Linked DNA regions of Homo sapiens: region 1 is linked to region 2. Evidence: fine-mapped expression QTL. A gene starts in region 2. The other region holds a variant in brackets. All regions are shown on one strand. Distances are from middle to middle.

The links. PIP is the estimated chance that this variant, and not a neighbour inherited with it, causes the effect.
Region 1: its variant is fine-mapped to the expression of AMZ1 in whole blood (TOPMed, PIP 0.92).

Annotation. Positions count from the first base shown.
Region 1 is chr7:2,706,361-2,714,681 of GRCh38, reverse strand. AMZ1 (archaelysin family metallopeptidase 1) reads right to left here. Exons shown (of 7, transcript NM_001384743.1): 4 at 5,966-6,094; 5 at 5,438-5,607; 6 at 4,866-5,042; 7 at 1-2,352. The coding sequence ends at 1,804. Among named protein-coding and RNA genes, the nearest start is that of AMZ1, 22 kb to the right of the region's middle. RefSeq lists silencers at 1,341-1,540, 4,719-4,878 and enhancers at 3,199-3,358, 3,999-4,048, 4,059-4,278, 4,424-5,119, 5,039-5,138. The variant G/A (reference allele first, on the strand shown) is at 4,245.
Region 2 is chr7:2,684,222-2,692,542 of GRCh38, reverse strand. It overlaps AMZ1 (archaelysin family metallopeptidase 1), which reads right to left and starts at 4,341. Exons shown (of 7, transcript NM_001384743.1): 1 at 4,247-4,341. RefSeq lists an enhancer at 3,373-3,642.

The DNA of each region.
Region 1 (8,321 bases), 22 kb before region 2:
CGAGCTCTGCCCAAGTTACAGATTCATGAGCTAGACTGTGGTGATTTTAAGCCACTAAGTTTTGGGTGGTTGTTTGCAGCAACAGCCACCAGGCTCCGGCTTTCACCTTCTGTTACTGCAGGGTGCTCTGCCGGCACCTTCCATTGGTCACTTTCTGAAAGGCCTAGCTCTTCATCTCCCCTCCCAGGTCACTGTTACGCCTTTTTGAAGCTACGCAAAAGAGAACGGGACGAAGATCCTAATGCTACTTCTGAGCTGCATCTTTGCTTCTCTGAAGTCAACACGGAGTGGGACCAGGACCGGGAGCCTTCAGTCGGCCTCCACCAATGTCAGATTCACAAGGAAGCCTCAGCCCACCTCACCTGCATAGCCCTTCTAGTTTTAGTTTTGTATTTTGTTTTTCTTAGAAGCCCTCCATAACCGTGTGAGCCACCCACCCACAAAAGGTCCAAGCTGCCCTGTTCTTGCCTCTCTCCAGATGAGGGTGCGCGAGCTGTGACCCCGCCCTCGTCACTCCGAAGGGATTCCGCTGTCAGAACCGGAAGTCTCTCTCCCAGAGACCCTCCACCACAGGCTGAGGGGGTACGTGTGACAATAAAAGGGTCAATTCCTCAGGAAGACACAACAATCAAATGTGCAGGGACGTAAAGGAGCTTCAAAGTGCAGGAAGCAAAATCCGGCAAAACTAAAGGGAGACAGATCAAACGCCCAGCCATGGCAATAATACCCCTCTCTCAGCAACTGACAGAACTAGACCGAAAAAAAAAGGAAAGACAGATCATCTGATCACCACCTCCAGCTACTTGGTACTGACAGCGCGGCCACCTTTGCCAAGAAACTGTCCCAAAAACATCACCACAGTTGATCTTCCCCACGGTGAGCTGTAGCCGCCTCAGGAATAAGGGGGCCTCTGCCCTCAGTGCACGTCAGACACCCTCACCTCCTGCAGTGTTTGTCAGAAGAGATGCCTGGAGAGCCCCGGTGAAGTCCGTCAGGATCAGGATGCTGTTAGCGCCACAGAACGTGACAGTGTGTGTGTGCATGTGGTTGACGCCTGAGATGATAGAGACAAAACCCCGTCACTTCCCCGTTAGGGAGGAGACTCAGCCTTGGAAGCTGGGTGGCAGTGTGGAGCCTGTGTGCCCCCGGGGTCACTCCTCATCTGAGCCAGCCTCTCCAGCTCCAGCTATAAATAACTGAAGGGCAGGCCCACAGCCTGGAAGGAGACAGGACGCACGCTGCTTCCTTCTGCCTCTGCAGGGGAGGGGGCTCTGTCCCAACCTCAGCACAGTCCGGCTTGTACTCCACGAGAAGCACCCAGGATCAGGGAGGCCTCTCCATGTGTGCAGGCCCCTGGGAGCGGCTGGCTGGGACTCAGGAGTTGAAGGAGGCGCCTGAAGACAGGTGGTCTGTGGCTTCTCCAAAGAACTTTTTTTTTTCTGGAGACAGTCTTTCTGTGTGGCCCAGACTGCAGTACAGTGGTATGATCACATCCCACTGCAGCCTCGACCTCCTAGGCTCAAGCAATCCTCCCACCTCAGCCTCCTGAATAGCTGGGAACACAGGCATGAACCACTTCATCCAGCTAATTTTTTAATTTTTCTTTTGTAGAGGCAGAGTCTCACCATGTTGCCCAGTCTGGTCTCAAACTCCTGGCCTCTCAAAGTGATGGGATGACAGGCCTGAGCCACCACCCAGGCAGACCCTTCCTCTTTATCCCTGGCAGGTCAGTAGTGGCCTCAGCTACTGGACAGTGCTGGCCAGCATCCTTAGGGAAGGAGACGTAGGGCAGCCCCTGCTGTACTAACTCTCTTCCCCATCCCAGGGACGGGGGGCCGACTCTGCTCTGGCGAGTTTTCGGGCACTCAGCTTCCTCCTCAGGGAGGAGAACTTGTCCCCCAGCACCTTGCGCAGCCCCACGCTGTCCCTGCTGCTGGGTGGGTCCTGCCTGGTGGCCGGGAGCTGGCCCGTGAACATCTCCCAGCGGTCGAGGGCGTCCACGGCTCTGTCCACCTGCACCAGGTCCTCCTCTGCCACTTCCCGCTGCAGGGCCTGGATGCACATGGCCAGCCACCGTTCATGCTCCTTGATGGCCTCCGCAGGGCCCCCAGGTGGCAGCGGAGCCTCTGAGGCTGCCAGGTAGCTCAGCCCTTCCTCTGGCCCCGAGGCGAAGGTGTGACTCCCGGCATCAGGGGTGAGGGGCTCCGACACACTGGTGCCGGGCTCCGAGTCACTCTCACAGCACATGCCCGAGTCGGCGCTGGCAGGCGGGGTGTCCTCCCACACTGACGGCTCCCCCGCCTCCTGGCTGGGCCACGTCCCCACCACCGCCTGAGTCCAGGTGTAGAGTCTCTAAGAGGGAGAAACACAGGCTGAGTTTGCTCCGTGCCAGCCCTTGTCTAGCCAGGGAACTGCCAGGAGACCTCCTTACCTAAGGGGACCCCACCGTCCTCAGTTACCCAGGGGCGGGAGTCAGGCTGGTGGTGTGAGGGCTCTTGTGACCAGCACCCTTTGAGGACTCATGTCCAGGCTGTGCCAGAGTCAGAGGTACCCACCCCCAAGAGCTCACCATTCAGGAACTTCGCAAGCTCCTTGTCATCCAAAGTTAGAACACTTAACATTTTTCGATTTTTTTAAGACAGAGGCTCACTCTGTTGGCCAGGCTGGAGTGCAGTGCTGCGATCTCAGCTCACTGCAACCTCCCCCTCCCAGGTTCAAGCAATTCTCCTGCGTTGGCCTCCTGAGTAGCAGGGATTTTACAGGTTCCTGCCAGCATGCCTGGCTAATTTTTACATTTTTTAGTGGAGACGGGGTTTCACCATGTTAGCCAGGCTGGTCTCAAACTCCTGACCTCAGATGACCCACCCACCTCCGCCTCCCAAAGTGCTGGGATTACAGGTGTGAGCCACGGCACCCACCCAGAAAGCGTATAATTAAATAAAATTTAAAATTTTAAAGCAAAGGTGTGGGCATGGTGGCTCACGCTTGTAATCCCAGCACAGGGAGGCAGAGGCAGGAGGATCACTTGAAACCAGGAGTTCAAGACCAGCCTGGGCAACATAGTGAGACCACCAGGGGGAAAAAAATGTAAAGCAAAGGCAGTACTTGAAACTCACTTCCTAAATGTTTTCTCCATTTCACTCTCACCTCTGCTCTCAAGGTTAGTCTCCTCTCCTGCATCTGTACAGGGGACACACAGTTTAACAAGGTCCCACTGCACATCTGTTCCCAACTCAGCACTCACTGACATCACATTGGGAGCTCACATCAGCCATCGTGAGACTGTTTACACCACAGGAAGTGGCAGAGACCACAACAAGTCAGGCTTTCTTCAAGAGGCATTTCACTGATTGCTGTCAGTGGACAGCAGTGACCTTTTCTGGCCAGGCCCTTGGTCAGCTCTCCAGCACCTCCCCAAGCCCTGGGACAGCAGGTGACCTCACATCCACACCACTGCCCTCCCTACAACAGCCAGGAGGGCCAGGCCACCCTGGAGTGCCTTTGCCCTGGCCCTCTTCCCTCCACAGCCTCAGGAGATGGTGCTCACGGAACGGAGAGAGCTCTGGGCAGGAGGAGGAGCTACACCCTCCAGCTCAGATCCAGGTGGATCCAGGCTATGCCAGGTCAGCACGTGTAGGGAGGGGCATACACTTTCTAAAAGTTCATGTCAGATGGTTGCACAAGACCCCAGGTGAAGGCATCAAATGAGAGCTCTCAACCCTTTCTGCAGACCAAGCTGCCCCTGTGCCTGTTACACAGCCTCAGGAAGGTACTAAGAGCTGCCCCTTGACGGGGCACAGCTGGCAGCAGCAACCTTTACAAGGCATCACCAGGTGCTGACCAGCCATCACGCCACCTGTACCCTCGGGAGATGCTCCTACCCTCAGCCATGGCTGCGCCTGGGTTCCCCCCAAGTCACAGGCTCTTCTCCTTACACTTGGAAAAGCTGTTTCCTCTGTGCCCCCTTCACCTTCCCTTGACTGCCAGAGTCTTCAGAGAGGATCCCTGCAGAGAGATTCCAGCACTGTGAGCTAGAAATGCCACGGCCTCTAGTTCAGTGTCACCCAGGACCCTGCAAGATACAGCTCCTCACTCTACCCCAGAAGGAAGGAGGGCCCAGCTAGGCCCTGCAGGGGATTCTGACAGGCTCGGTCCGGGAACCACACCCCCACTTGCCTCAACGGGCGGGAGGAGGATGCAGGGGCTTTCCAGCGCGGTTTCATTGACTGCTCTGGTGCCTGTAC[G/A]CAGTGAGCACCTTATAACTGGTTGTAGTCCAAAGCTGGGTTTGAAGAAAAATTACCACCACCTGCCTTTGCACTCAGAACTCAGAGTAAAGCTTTTGAGCTTGCAAACAAATGTCCATGAATACGGACGAGCCCTTTGCTCGGCAACCCCACCCAGGCGACAGAGGGAGTTAGGAATGGAGGCCACCTCCAACAAGCCTTGTTGTGTCAGCTCCCACCTCCTCGCAAGGGGCCTGTGCCTCCTCTGAGCAGCAGTGACCCAAGTGTGGGTGACGGGAAAGCAAAGAGAAAGTTACCCTGGGAAGACCGTGCCACCCGCCGGCTGGGCTCCAATGCCAGCTCTTCCTGACAGAGGGAGAAAAGCCCTCGTCCCCACTCGACCCCGCTGCAACCTCCCAGTCACAGCCACCACACGCGGGCCCTGGCAGGACTCGATCTACTGCCAGTGAGATCCGGATGGAGCTCAACCCCAGCGCAGGTCCCAGGGCTCTGCACTGCCTGGAACCCGGCAGTTGACAAAGCCTGTGTGCGGTCCCCATGCCCTGCGTAGCCTCCAGGCGGCGCTCGCGGGCCTCCGGAGCGCAGGTCCCAGCAGCCGGGCAGCGCAACTCAGCCACTCACCTGGTACCTCTCGATGAGCCTGAAACCCAGGACATGCTGCAGCTTCCTCAGGCAGATGGGACAGAGGTCCAGGGGCCGCCGCAGGGCCTCGTCCAGGCTGAGCGCACCCTGCATGAGGCAGCGGAGCCAGCGGCAGTTCCCCAGGCCCAGAAGGTGGCAGAGCTCGTGGCACGTGACCTGGGGGGAAGGCCACCAAGCACCTTGCCTCACTGCCTTGCCCCTGCATCCGGCAGATCCCCAGGCAGCCCCAGCAGGACCAAAATGAGGACCTGGGTGAGGCCAGATGGCCGGGAGGTGGTCCAGGCGCCCTCCCCCTGCCCCAGGCGGCACAGGCCACTTTCAGGGCCCCAGGGGAAAGGTGAGTCAGGGTGGGAGGCCACACAGGATAGGGGCTTGGGGCTCTAATCCCTCCCCTGCTGCTTCATAGCTGTGTAGCCTTGCTTTCCTCATTCCATAGAGTTAGGGGTCCATCCACTTCACTGTGAGGATGGGGCAGTGTAACAGACCGAGGCACCAAGGGCTCAGACAGCACCCTCCTGTCCCCTCTTACCAGCCCCAGAGCCCCCACCCACCTTGCAGCACTGAACCATCCCCAGGGCACTGAAGCACAGGGCCCAGCCCCTGTCCTGCAGGGGGGCCTCGGGGCCGTCTGCTGCTGCCTCTACCAGGGCCAGATCAGGGGCGCTGGGCCCCGACTTCGGGAATTCCCCTGAGAACCGGGCGAAGCTGCAGACGCCCACTTCTGGAGAGAGATGGAGAGAAGGGCACTCTCAGGGGTCAGCCTTGGCTCTGGGGGGCCCACCGTCAAACCCACCTCATGCTCTCATGCAAGCTGGCCATGGCCCAAAGACATACCAGTCCTGGGAGGCCCTGTCCTGCCCACATGAAGTTGGGCCCTGGGGCAGACGCCACAGCTGAGGAACAGCCCCTATGCCATTCCTCAGGAGGAGCTGGAAGGGGCCATCTATTCCCATGCACAGGTGTTGACTTCCACCAGGAGGGTGCTTGAAGCAAAAGCAAAGAGGGTGCCCTGCAGCCACGGAGGCCACAGCCCCATGCCAGGCTACCCCCCACGCACAGCTGCTGGGGCCCCGGCTCACCGTGCCCTGGAAGGAACTTGCTGAAGGTGAAGCTCCAGGCCTCATGGGGGTACAGGTCAGACAGTGTGAGGCCCAGCACACACAGCGCGTCCCCTGGCTTGTTGTTCTTCAAGAAGGACAGGATGCCGTCTGCGGGGAGAGGGCCAGAGGATGGGGTCAGGAGGCAGCCGGGGACCCCCATCTTCCAGGCTCAGGCTGGCACCCCGTCATCCTCTTCCTCTGCCTGGGCCCTGCCCCTTCCCAAGTCAGGTGTGGGCCACCAGCGTTTGGTGTGACCTGAGGGCACACAGTACTGCATGATGTGGAGTGACAGCCAGGGCCATTTGGAGATCAGGACATGGTAAGTCAAAGGCCATGGACAGCCCAGTGGGGACGCTGGAGAGGCAGCCGGGCCAACAAGACTGGCGCTTGCAGCCCCAGGAAGGAGAAGCCACCTCAGCAGCTGAGCGACAGCCCCAGAGAGTCCACGTCTCAGCCCTGGGACCTGTGAGTCCCCACAGCCAAAGGGGCTGCAGATGATTAAAGATCTTGGGATGGAGGCGTTTTTCTGCAGCAGCCAGCTGAGCCTGATGCCATCACAAGAACCCTCGGTAAGGCCGGGCACAGTGGCTCACACCTGTGATGCCAGCAACTCGGGAGGCCAAGATGGGCAGATCACCTGAGGTCAGGAGTTCGAGACCAGCCTGGCCAACATGACAAAACCCCATCTCTACTAAAAATACAAAATGAGCCGGGCCTGGTGGTGCGTGCCTGTAATCCCAACTACTCAGGAGTCTGAGACGGGAGAATTGCTTGAACCCAGGAGGTAGAGGTGGCAATGAGCTGACATCACGCCACTGCCCTCTAGCCTGGGCAACAGAGCCAGACTCCATCTCAAAAAAAAAAAAAAAAAAAAAAAGCCCTCGTTAGAGGCAGCAGGGGGTCTGGGTGAGAACGTGAGGCCTGAGGGCACTGCAGGGCTGGCTCGGAGGAAGGACCATTAGCCAAGGATACGGGTGCCTCTAGAAGCTGGAAAGGGCAGGAAATGGATTCTCCCTGGAGTTTCCTGGAGCCAACCCTTGACTTTAGCCTGGGCAGTGGGGGCGCTCCTGACCCACAGCACTGTGAGATCACAGTGGGTCATCCAAGCTAGCAAGTTGTGTAACTTGTTAGCATGGTTCCCCGGAGCATGAGTGTGGACAGATACAGGAGAGGCCCAGGGGCTGAACCTGGGCACGATGGCATCAAAGCCGGGAAACCAGAAGCCCAGGGAGGGAAGGGGGCAGAGCAGCCACCACGGGCCCAGGAAACCCGGAGAGGGTCTCAGAGTTAGTGTAGAGAAGAGGGGTTGCGGCACAGAGGCACACCGGAGAAGTGTTTTCCAAGGAGTTCTACCATTAAAAGGAACAGATTGACAAGGAGGTTGTTCTGTGTGTGTGTGTTTTTTTGTTTTTTTTTTTTGAGATGGAGTGTTGCTTTGTTGCCCAGGCTGCAGTGTAGTGGCGCTATCTATCTCAGTTCACTGTAACCTCCGCCTCCCAGGTTCAAGCCATTCTCCTGCCTCAGCTTCCTGAGTAGCAGGGATTACAGGCACGTGCCATCACACCCAGCTAATTTTTGTATTTTTAGTAGAAAGGAGATTTCACCATGTTAGTCAAGCTGGTCTCAAACTCCTACCCTCGTGATCCGTCTGCCTCGGTCTCCCAAAGTGCTGGGATTACAGGCATGACCCACCACAGCTGGCCCTGTGTTTGTTTTTGAGATAACATCCCATTCTGTCACCCAGGCTGGAGTACAATCACAGCTCACGCTGCAGTCTCCACCTCCTGGGCTCAAGCAATCTTCCTGCCTCGGCCTCCTGAGCAGCTGGGTAATTGATTGACAATGATGCTAATGAGGTGATGATGATTGACAGTGATGATTGTTGTGGATCAGGCTATGTCCCCCAAAAAGACAGGTGGAAGTCCTAACCCCCGGAACCTGCCATTGTTTGGAAACAGGATCTGTGCAGATGTAATCCAGTTAAGATGAGGTCATGAAGGAGACCCAGTGACTGGAGTCTTAGAAGAGACGCAGAGGCACATGGCGTAAAGCTCACGGGAAGTCAAAGGCTGAGGTTGGAGTTGTGCATCTGGAAGCCACAGAGGGCTGGGCATTGCCAGCAACTTCCAGAAGCTGGAGGCAGCCAGGAAGCACCCTCCACGGAGCCTTCTGAGACCACGTGGCCCTGCCAAAACCTTGGTTAAGAACTGCAGGCTCCAGCGATGTGAGACAAGAAATGTCCCTAAGCCACTCAGTTTGTGGTACTTTGTTACGGCAGTCCCAGGAAACCAGTACAGTGATCCAAAGCATGCTACTCTCTGGGCAAGATGGCAGG
Region 2 (8,321 bases):
TGAGATGGAGCCTCACTCTATCACCCAGGCTGGAGTGCAGTGGCACAATCTCGGCTCACTGCAACCTCCGCTTCCCGGGTTAAAGCGATTCTCCTGCCTCAGCCTCCCGAATAGCTGGGACTAAAGGCGCCCGCCACCACACCCGGCTAATTTTTTTTTGTATTTTTAGTAGAGATGGGGTTTCACGTGTTAGCCAGGATGGTCTCGATCTCCTGACCTCATGATCCGCCCGCCTCGGCCTCCCAGAGTGTTGGGATTACAGGCGTGAGCCACCACGCCCGGCCAAGCTCGGTCCTCTTTCAACCCCACTGTGTCCTCCCTGTGAGATGGGTGTGGTCCCACCTGTCTTCCTCCAGGAGCCTGGCTGGCCCAAGTAGGAGGAGGAGGCACTTAGCCGGCCTCGGAGCACCCGACGCCACAGGAGACTCACCAGCTTATTTTTGTAGTTTCTGGGTACCGGTGACATGACCTGCTCACCGGCTTCTCGCTCCCAGACCTTCCACTCACCAGCACTGCCGCCCACAAGGGGCAAGCACCATAACCTCCCAGTTACCTCCAAATCATTCCCCTAGCGCCGCAGCCAGCTCAGAATTATTTGTTCTGTCCACAGGGGCCTATCAATTATTTCTCTGGAGCAGCCCAGGGCCTTCCAGATGCCCAGGATGGTCTGTGTCCCAGCTTTCCAGAGAATGACATGGTAAAACAGATAGCAATACCTGCGGGCACCCTGGACCAGCCCTGATCAACATTCCCCTTCCGGTGCCTGCCACCCTGCAAAGCCCCAAAATCACTTATTTTTTTTTTTTTTTTTTGAGACGGAGCCTTGCTCTGTCACCCAGGTTAGAGTGCAGTGGCGCAATCTCGGCTCACTGCAACCTCCGCCTCCTGGGTTCACTGCCTGAGCCTCCCGAACAGCTGGGACTGCAGGCGCTCACGACCACACCCAGCTTATTTTTGTATTTTTAGTAGAAACGAGGTTTCACCATATTGGCCAAGCTGTTCTCAGACTCCTGACCTTGTGATCCACCCGCCTCGGCCTCCCGAAGTGCTGGGATTATATGTGTGAGCCACCGCGCCCGGCCCAAAATCACTTTCTGATGCAACACCTTGTCCGACCTCCAAAGCCATCCTGAGATTCACCCATGTCATAACCCAGGAGACTGAGGCTCAGAGAGGGAAAGCCACTTGCCCAGGGTTACACAGCTCACCTGGATCTTGACTCCCAGCACAGAGACCCCTGACTCCAGTCCTCACACACGGACCTTCCCCTACTCTTGAGGGGGCTTTCCTGCCAGCACCCACACCCACCTGACCACCCGAAAACCCTGGTCAGAGGCTTCCCTGCCAGCAAACCCTCCTACTCCAGGCAAAGCATCAGGAAATGAGAAATGCTTTTTTTTTTTTTTTTTTTGCCTCTGTCACCCAGGCTGGAGTGCAGTGGCACAATCTCAGCTCACTGCAACCTCCTTCTCCTCCAGGGTTCAAGCGATTCTCATGCCTCAGCCTCCCTAGTAGCTGGGACTACAGACGCATGCCACCATGCCAGGCTAATTTTGTTATCTTTAGTAGAGACAGGGTTTCACCATGTTGGCCAGGCTAGTATCGAACTCCTGGCCTCAAGTGGTCTGCCTGCCTCGGCCTCCCAAAGCACTGGGATTTCAGAGGTGAGCCACCACACCCGGCTGAGAAATGCCTTCTTTTTACCAAAAGTTCACAAGCCCTACCACATTGGTTCCAGGTGTGACTTGGGCCCAAACTGCCAACCTCAGGCCCATCTAAGTTATTCAGGGAGGACCGAATGGGAGCAACAGGAAGGGCCACAGCGACAAGTTTTGCAGGGGACCAGAGCACACGCACAGAGGAGCCACGACCACAGAGGCCGTTTGCACACCCGCAAGCAGTGGCGGGCACGTGGGTAACTCAAGAGCATCTACATCGGAAACCCAGCCAGAGACACAACACCACCTTCAGCCAACCTGAGCCGCCCGGGAAGGAGTGGCCACGCCAGCTCCAGACTAGCCCGGCTGGAAGATCAACAGGATGTGAGAGGCAAGCTCTAAAAATAGCCACCTCCCGGGACAATCGCTTGAGTCCAGGAGTTTGAGACCAGCCTGGGGAAATATGGCAAAACCCCGTCTCTACAAAACATTTTAAAAATTAGCTGGGCATGGTTGTGCATGCCTGTGGTCCCAGCTACTAGGGAGGCTGAGATGGGAGGATTGCTTTCGCCCTGGAGGTCGAGGCTGTGGTGAGCTATGATTGCATCACTGCATTCCAGCCTGGAAGACAGAGCAAGACCCTGTCTGTCTGTCTGTCTGTCTCTCTCTCTCTCTCACACACACACAAAAACACAGCCACCTCCTAGTGCAGACTGGAGAATGGTGTGACAGGCTCCAAGCTAGGAATGAGAACGCTTAGCTCCCTCCATCCCTTAACACGGGTACAGCTCTCGGGCATCCAGGGCATGACGTCTGCCCACATACTATTTCCTCTCAAGAAGCCTTGTGGCCACATTCGTCTTCGTGGGTCATTCAGGAAAACCCCGGTCCCCACTGTCAGCTGCCAGCTGAGTCCTTCCATCCTGCCAGGTCATTTCTGCACAAGACCACTCCTCACATAGAGCCAGAGCTGCATGTGAGCCCTGGGGGTACCCACGGGGAGGGAGCCGCCTTAGTGGGGGTCAGCTTCGCAGCACCCTCTGGCACTCACCAACCCATCCATGCTCCAAAAAGGAGACCCCCAGATGGAGGTTTCTCGCTGTCCTTTGGACCCTGTCACAGTGTGTCCCCCTCCTCTGCTAACTGCAGTCATGACAGCAGCCAACAGGTCTCATGCCTGCGTCCTCCAAGCCACACACGGAGCCGCAGGTGCCACTGCGGTGTTTCAGGTGGGGAAACTGAGGCTCAGACGTTAAGTGACTTGGCCCTGGCGACACAGCTGGGGGCCAGCGGGGCCTGGTTTCAAAGCCACGCTTCACACTGGAACCCCAGCTGCTCCTGGAGCAGGGATGTTCTGACGGGGACAGGGGGTAGGACGTCTCCTCTCCCAGAGCACCCGAGTTCCAGCCCTGCTGCTATTAATACCATGGGTAAACTCAGACGCTTCTCCTTCCTCCTCCCCTTGCCTTTTTTTGTCCAAAGACTGGAAAAGAGCACGTCCGCATCCCCCCCCCAGGGAGGTTCTGCCGCTCTAAGCAACAAGGGCCGCCAGACTGGCCCAGTAACCAGGTATCCAAGGTCAGGCTGCCCTAAACCGCACAGCTCCGGGCACTCATGCTCCCCCATCTGACCACGCAGATGCCTGGCCTTTGGGCAAGAAACCATGCTCTGATTCTCGCTATTCTGAATGCGCTTTGCAAAACCTCCCAGCAGCTGCATCGAGCTATTCATTAGCTGACAGCGGAGACCTTCAGGCAGAACCAGACGGACGGATGGTTTTGGGGGTTTCTCACCTCTCAGTTTCCATTCGCTAGGAGGGAAAACCGGGGGCTTAGACCGCAGGGGTAGTGGCCTCCGGGCCAGACTCTTGGCTTCCTGTTCTCTCTCCTCACCTGCGAACCCCAAACTCCTCTGCCAAGTGTTTCCCTCCCGTGATGGGGGCAGAAAGGACCCAGGTCCCTGCCCTCCCCTGTCCTTTGTAAAGTTTGCCATTTCTCTGTCACCCCTCCCTTGCTTTTCTGGTTTTGAGACCTGTCTTACATCCCTGCAGGGATCATATCCACAGCCTTCTCCCTCAGTCTCCTGGGGGAGGAAGCCTTCTCCCTCCCCGGCTCATACACAGGCTGCGGGGAGCCCTGGGCACGACGAGATTCTCGGCGCCCTGGAGGTTCCCCGGGGACGTCCCGCACCCACCTGGCTCGCCCCAGCCCGGAAACGCCTTCTTTCGGGCGCTTGGCCCTGGATTCCCGACCCGTCCCCAGTTTGCTCCCATCGGGAAGCGCGCAGGTCGCCCTGGCCTGGGAGAGGATGGCGGGGAGGGGGCGCGTGGCCCTTCCCTGGCCCGGCCTTCCCTCTGCAGGACCTGCCGGGGCTGTGCGGACCCCGGCGCGGCGCTGCACCAAACCCTCGCCAAGTGCGCCCTTCGCGTCTCCGCGGTCCCCGCGCGCCCGTAGCCGCCGCCGCCCGGGCGCCCTCGGGACTTGGTGCGCGGGCCGGGCTGGACCCGGAGCTGCCCCTACCCACCCGCCCCGGCACGGAGGTCCCTCTCGGTCCCTGCGCCCCCGAGTCTTCCCCGCGCGCCCCCCTACCTCGCAGTCCCGCGCCCGCCGGAGCCGGCAGAGGCCGCGCCGGGCACCGAGCCCCGGGCAGCAGCGTGGGCAGCTCGGCCTGGGCCGGGAGGATCGGGAGGTCCCGGTGACGTCGGCGCGCGGGGCAGGGACCGAGGCGGGCGGGACTGGGGCCGGTGTGGGGCCGCGGGCAGGACAGGAGGGCCACACCCCTCCCGGCGCTCAGCGTCCTGCCCCACTCCCTCCAGCTGCCCGCGGTGGAGCTCACGTGGGACCCTCCAGCCTCCCAGAAACACCCGGGCAGGGGGGCCCCAGAGCCTAAAGCCAAACAGGTGAGGGAGGTCAGTCAGCCCGGGCCAGTTCGTGCCTCCCCAGGTGAGAGGAGTAAACCCGGCTACTCTGCAAGGCGCCAGGTGAAGAGGTGAACCAGGCCACCAGTTAAGGCCCCAGGTGAGAGGGGTGAACCAGCGCCACGAGGTGAGGAAGGGGAACCAGGCCACCAGGAGAGGCCCCAGGTGAGAGGGGTGAACCAGGCTATCAGGCAAGGCGCCAGGTGAGGGGGTGAACGAGGCCACCAGGTGAGGAGGTGAACCAGGCTTATCAGCGAAGCCCCAGGTGAGAGGGGTGAACCAGGCCCCTAGGTTAGCCCTACAGTCAGTGGCCCTGAGGACGGGCGCCCTGCCCTACCCTGGCCAGCTGTGAGTGCAGCCCTGGCCCTGTGCCAGCCACCAGGAGATGGAAAGGACTCTAAGTGCGGAAGGATGCCGTGAAGGCCGGCATGACGGCTCCAGACAGAGCCCAGAGGCCTTTTCCATAAACTGCCCTTTTCCTCTCTGCAAACCCTCCCAGCACCAGCTTCCCTCGGGCAGCCTCCCACCAGCTCTGCTTCACCGTGCAGAAATGCCCCCCACGCCCTCAGCAGCGCCCCACAGATGGCTGAGGGATTCGTCACCATCGTCCCACACCAGTGCAAAGAATTTTTTTTTTTTTTTAGATGGAGTCTCGCTCTGTCGCCCAGGCTGGAGTGTAATGGTGCAATCTGGGCTCACTGCAACCTCCACCTCCGGGGTTCAAGTCATTCTTCTGCCTCAGCCGCCTGAGTAGTGGGGATTATAGGTACCCATCATTGTGTCCAGCTAATTTTTGTATTTTTAATAGAGATGGGGTTTCACCTTCTTGGCCAGGCTGGTATCAAACTCTTGACCTCATGATACACCCGCCTCAGCCTCTCAAAGTGCTGGGAGTACAGGCGTGAGCCACCACACCCAGCCTCAAAGAATTTTTTTAAGCCTTAAGAAATAACACGGCTGGGCGTGGTGGCTCATGCCTGTAATCCCAGCACTTTGGGAGGCTGAGGCAGACAGATCACAAGGTCAGGAGTTCAAGACCGGCCTGGCCAGTATGGTCAAACCCCGTCTCTATTAAAAATAAAAAAATTAGCTGGGCGTGGTGGCTGGTGCCTATAGTCCCAGCTACTCGGGAGGCTGAAGCAGGAGAATCACTTGAACCCGGGAGGCGGAGGTTGCAGTGAGCCGAGATTATGCCACTGCACTCCAGCCTGGGTGACAAAGCAAGACTTTGTTTCAAAAAAAAAAGAGAGAGAGAGAAAAACAACACAACACTAGGTGTCCGGTGTGCAAAATTTGGAAAATTATGAAAAATAAAAACAAAAAGAAGACCCCATAAGCCAACTGTGTAGAGGTAACCTCTCTCACCTTCTTGTCAGACATCCTTCTGATCGCCTTCTCCTCCACATTGAAATGTATTTTTAAAAAGTTTTTTTTGAGACAGGATCTTGCTCTATTGCCCAAGCTAGAATGCACTGGTATAAACGCGAGTCACTGTAGCCTCGACCTCCTAGACTCCAGCAATCCTCCTCCCTCAGCCTCCTGAGTAGCTGAGACTACAGGTACGTGCCATCACACCTGGCTAATTTTGAAACTTTTATGTAGAGATGGGATCTCGCTATGTTGCTCAAGCTGGTCTCAAACTCCTGGGCTCAAACAACCCTCCCAGCTCGGCCTCCCAAAATGTTGAGATCACAGGTATGAGCCACCGTGCCCAGCCTAAATACATATTTTAAGGGATTCACGTCACATACTGCGTTCTGCAGGCGGCCCGTGACTTCACACTCATCAATAGCCAAAAGTCCGTCTCCACACCCTGATGGTCTGCGCTGGACTCCGTGTCATGGATCTGTCACCTGCTTTGGGATATTTTGGTTTCTCCTGGTGTCTCACTAGCATATATCACTGTGATAGACGATCTTGTTTCCACAGATCTTTGTACAGGTATCTGGTCCCCCTCACCTTGGGATAAATTCCTACAAATAGATTGTGACTCAGAAAGCTGCACTTCTTCACACGTGTTGCCGCAGGGATTTTCCAGGTTATTTCTGTTGGGGATGGAGAACCCAGAACCTGAGAAAAGATGAATGTTCTTTTTTTTTTTTTTTTTTTTTTCTTGAGACGGAGTCTCGCTCTGTCACTCAGGCTGGAGTGCAGTGGCGTGATCTCGGCTCACTGCAAGCTCCACCTCCCGGGTTCACACCATTCTCCTGCCTCAGCCTCCTAAGTAGCTGGGACTACAGGCGCCTGCCATCATGCCTAGCTAATTTTTGTGTTTTTAGTAGAGATGGGGTTTCACCATGTTGGCCAGGATGGTCTCGATCTCCTGACCTCGTGATCCGCCTGCCACGGCCTCCCAAAGTGCTGGGATTACAGGCATGAGCCACCGCACCCGGCCTTTTTTTTTTTTTGAGACGGAGTCTCACTCTGTTGCCCAGAGCTGGAGTACAAGTGGCGCGATCTCGGCTCACTGCAAACTCCACTTCCTGGGTTCAAGCGATTCTCCTGCCTCAGCCACCCAAGTAGCTGCGATTACAGGTGCCCGTCACCTCGCCCGGCTAATTTTTGTATTTTTAGGAAGGACAGGGCTTCACCCTGTTGGCCAGGCTGGTCTCGAACTCCTGACTTCAAGTGATCCACCCGCCTTGGCCTCCCAAATTGCTGGGATTACAGGCGTGAGCCACCGAGCCTGGCCTGAATGTTCTGTCCTAAAGCTGCTTATTACAAAGAAGTTGTGGAATATCCTCCCCCCAACCCCCACGCCCCTCCCTGAATAGCCACCGGAAAGGAAATTATGCATCGAGGCCGGGCGCGGCGGCTCAACCTGTAATCCCAGCACTTTGGGAGGCCGAGGCGGGCGGATCACGAGGTCAGAAGATCAAGACCATCCTGGCTAACACAGTGAAACTCCATCTTTACTAAAGATACAAAAAATTAGCCGGGCGTGGTGGCGGGCGCCTGTAGTCCCAGCTACTCAGGAGGCTGAGGCAGGAGAATGGCGTGAACCTGGGAGGCGGAGCTTGCAGTGAGCTGAGATCGCGCCACTGCACTCCAGCCTGGGCGACAGAGACTCCGTCTCAAAAAAAAAAAAAAAAAAAGCAATTATGTGTCAAGCCCAGAGTGGCAGTTCCTCCTCTGTCTGTTGGGTCAGCCCGGGAGACTGGAAGCCCAGATGAGTAGGGCCCCTCCTGGGTGCCCCAAGTTGGGTGGCGCCATGCCCAGTGCCAGGACCCCCGAAACACAGAGGCAGCCTGCTGATGACCTGGCCCCTGCCAGCCAAGGCTTCACTCAGCCAACGCCCTGTCCACACTGCACCCGGGACACGCTGGTCTCCCACCGGCAGACTGCACACCCCTTTCTGGTTGAAGCTACCTCGTCAGAGTCTATTCTAGAAAGAGGCCGTGATATGGGGACCCCTGTCCTTTCAGTGATGAACAAAGGGGGCCGCCCCCAACTTTGACCCCATCACCATCCTCTGACCCAGGCCGACTTGGGGTTAAAAGAGAACTGTGTGGCCTGGGGAAGCTGCTTCACCTTGCCCTGCCTCAGTTTCCCCAGGGTGGGTTACATAGCGGCTCCCAAAAATGTGCCTACTTGCACCATCAGAATGGGACCTTATTTGGAAACCGAGTCGTTGCAGATATGGTTAAAGTAAGGATCTCAAGATGAGGTCATCCTGGGTCAGAGTCAGGGTGGGCCCTAAATCCAATGCAAGTGACTTTGTAAGAGACAGAAAGAGGTTCCTCATT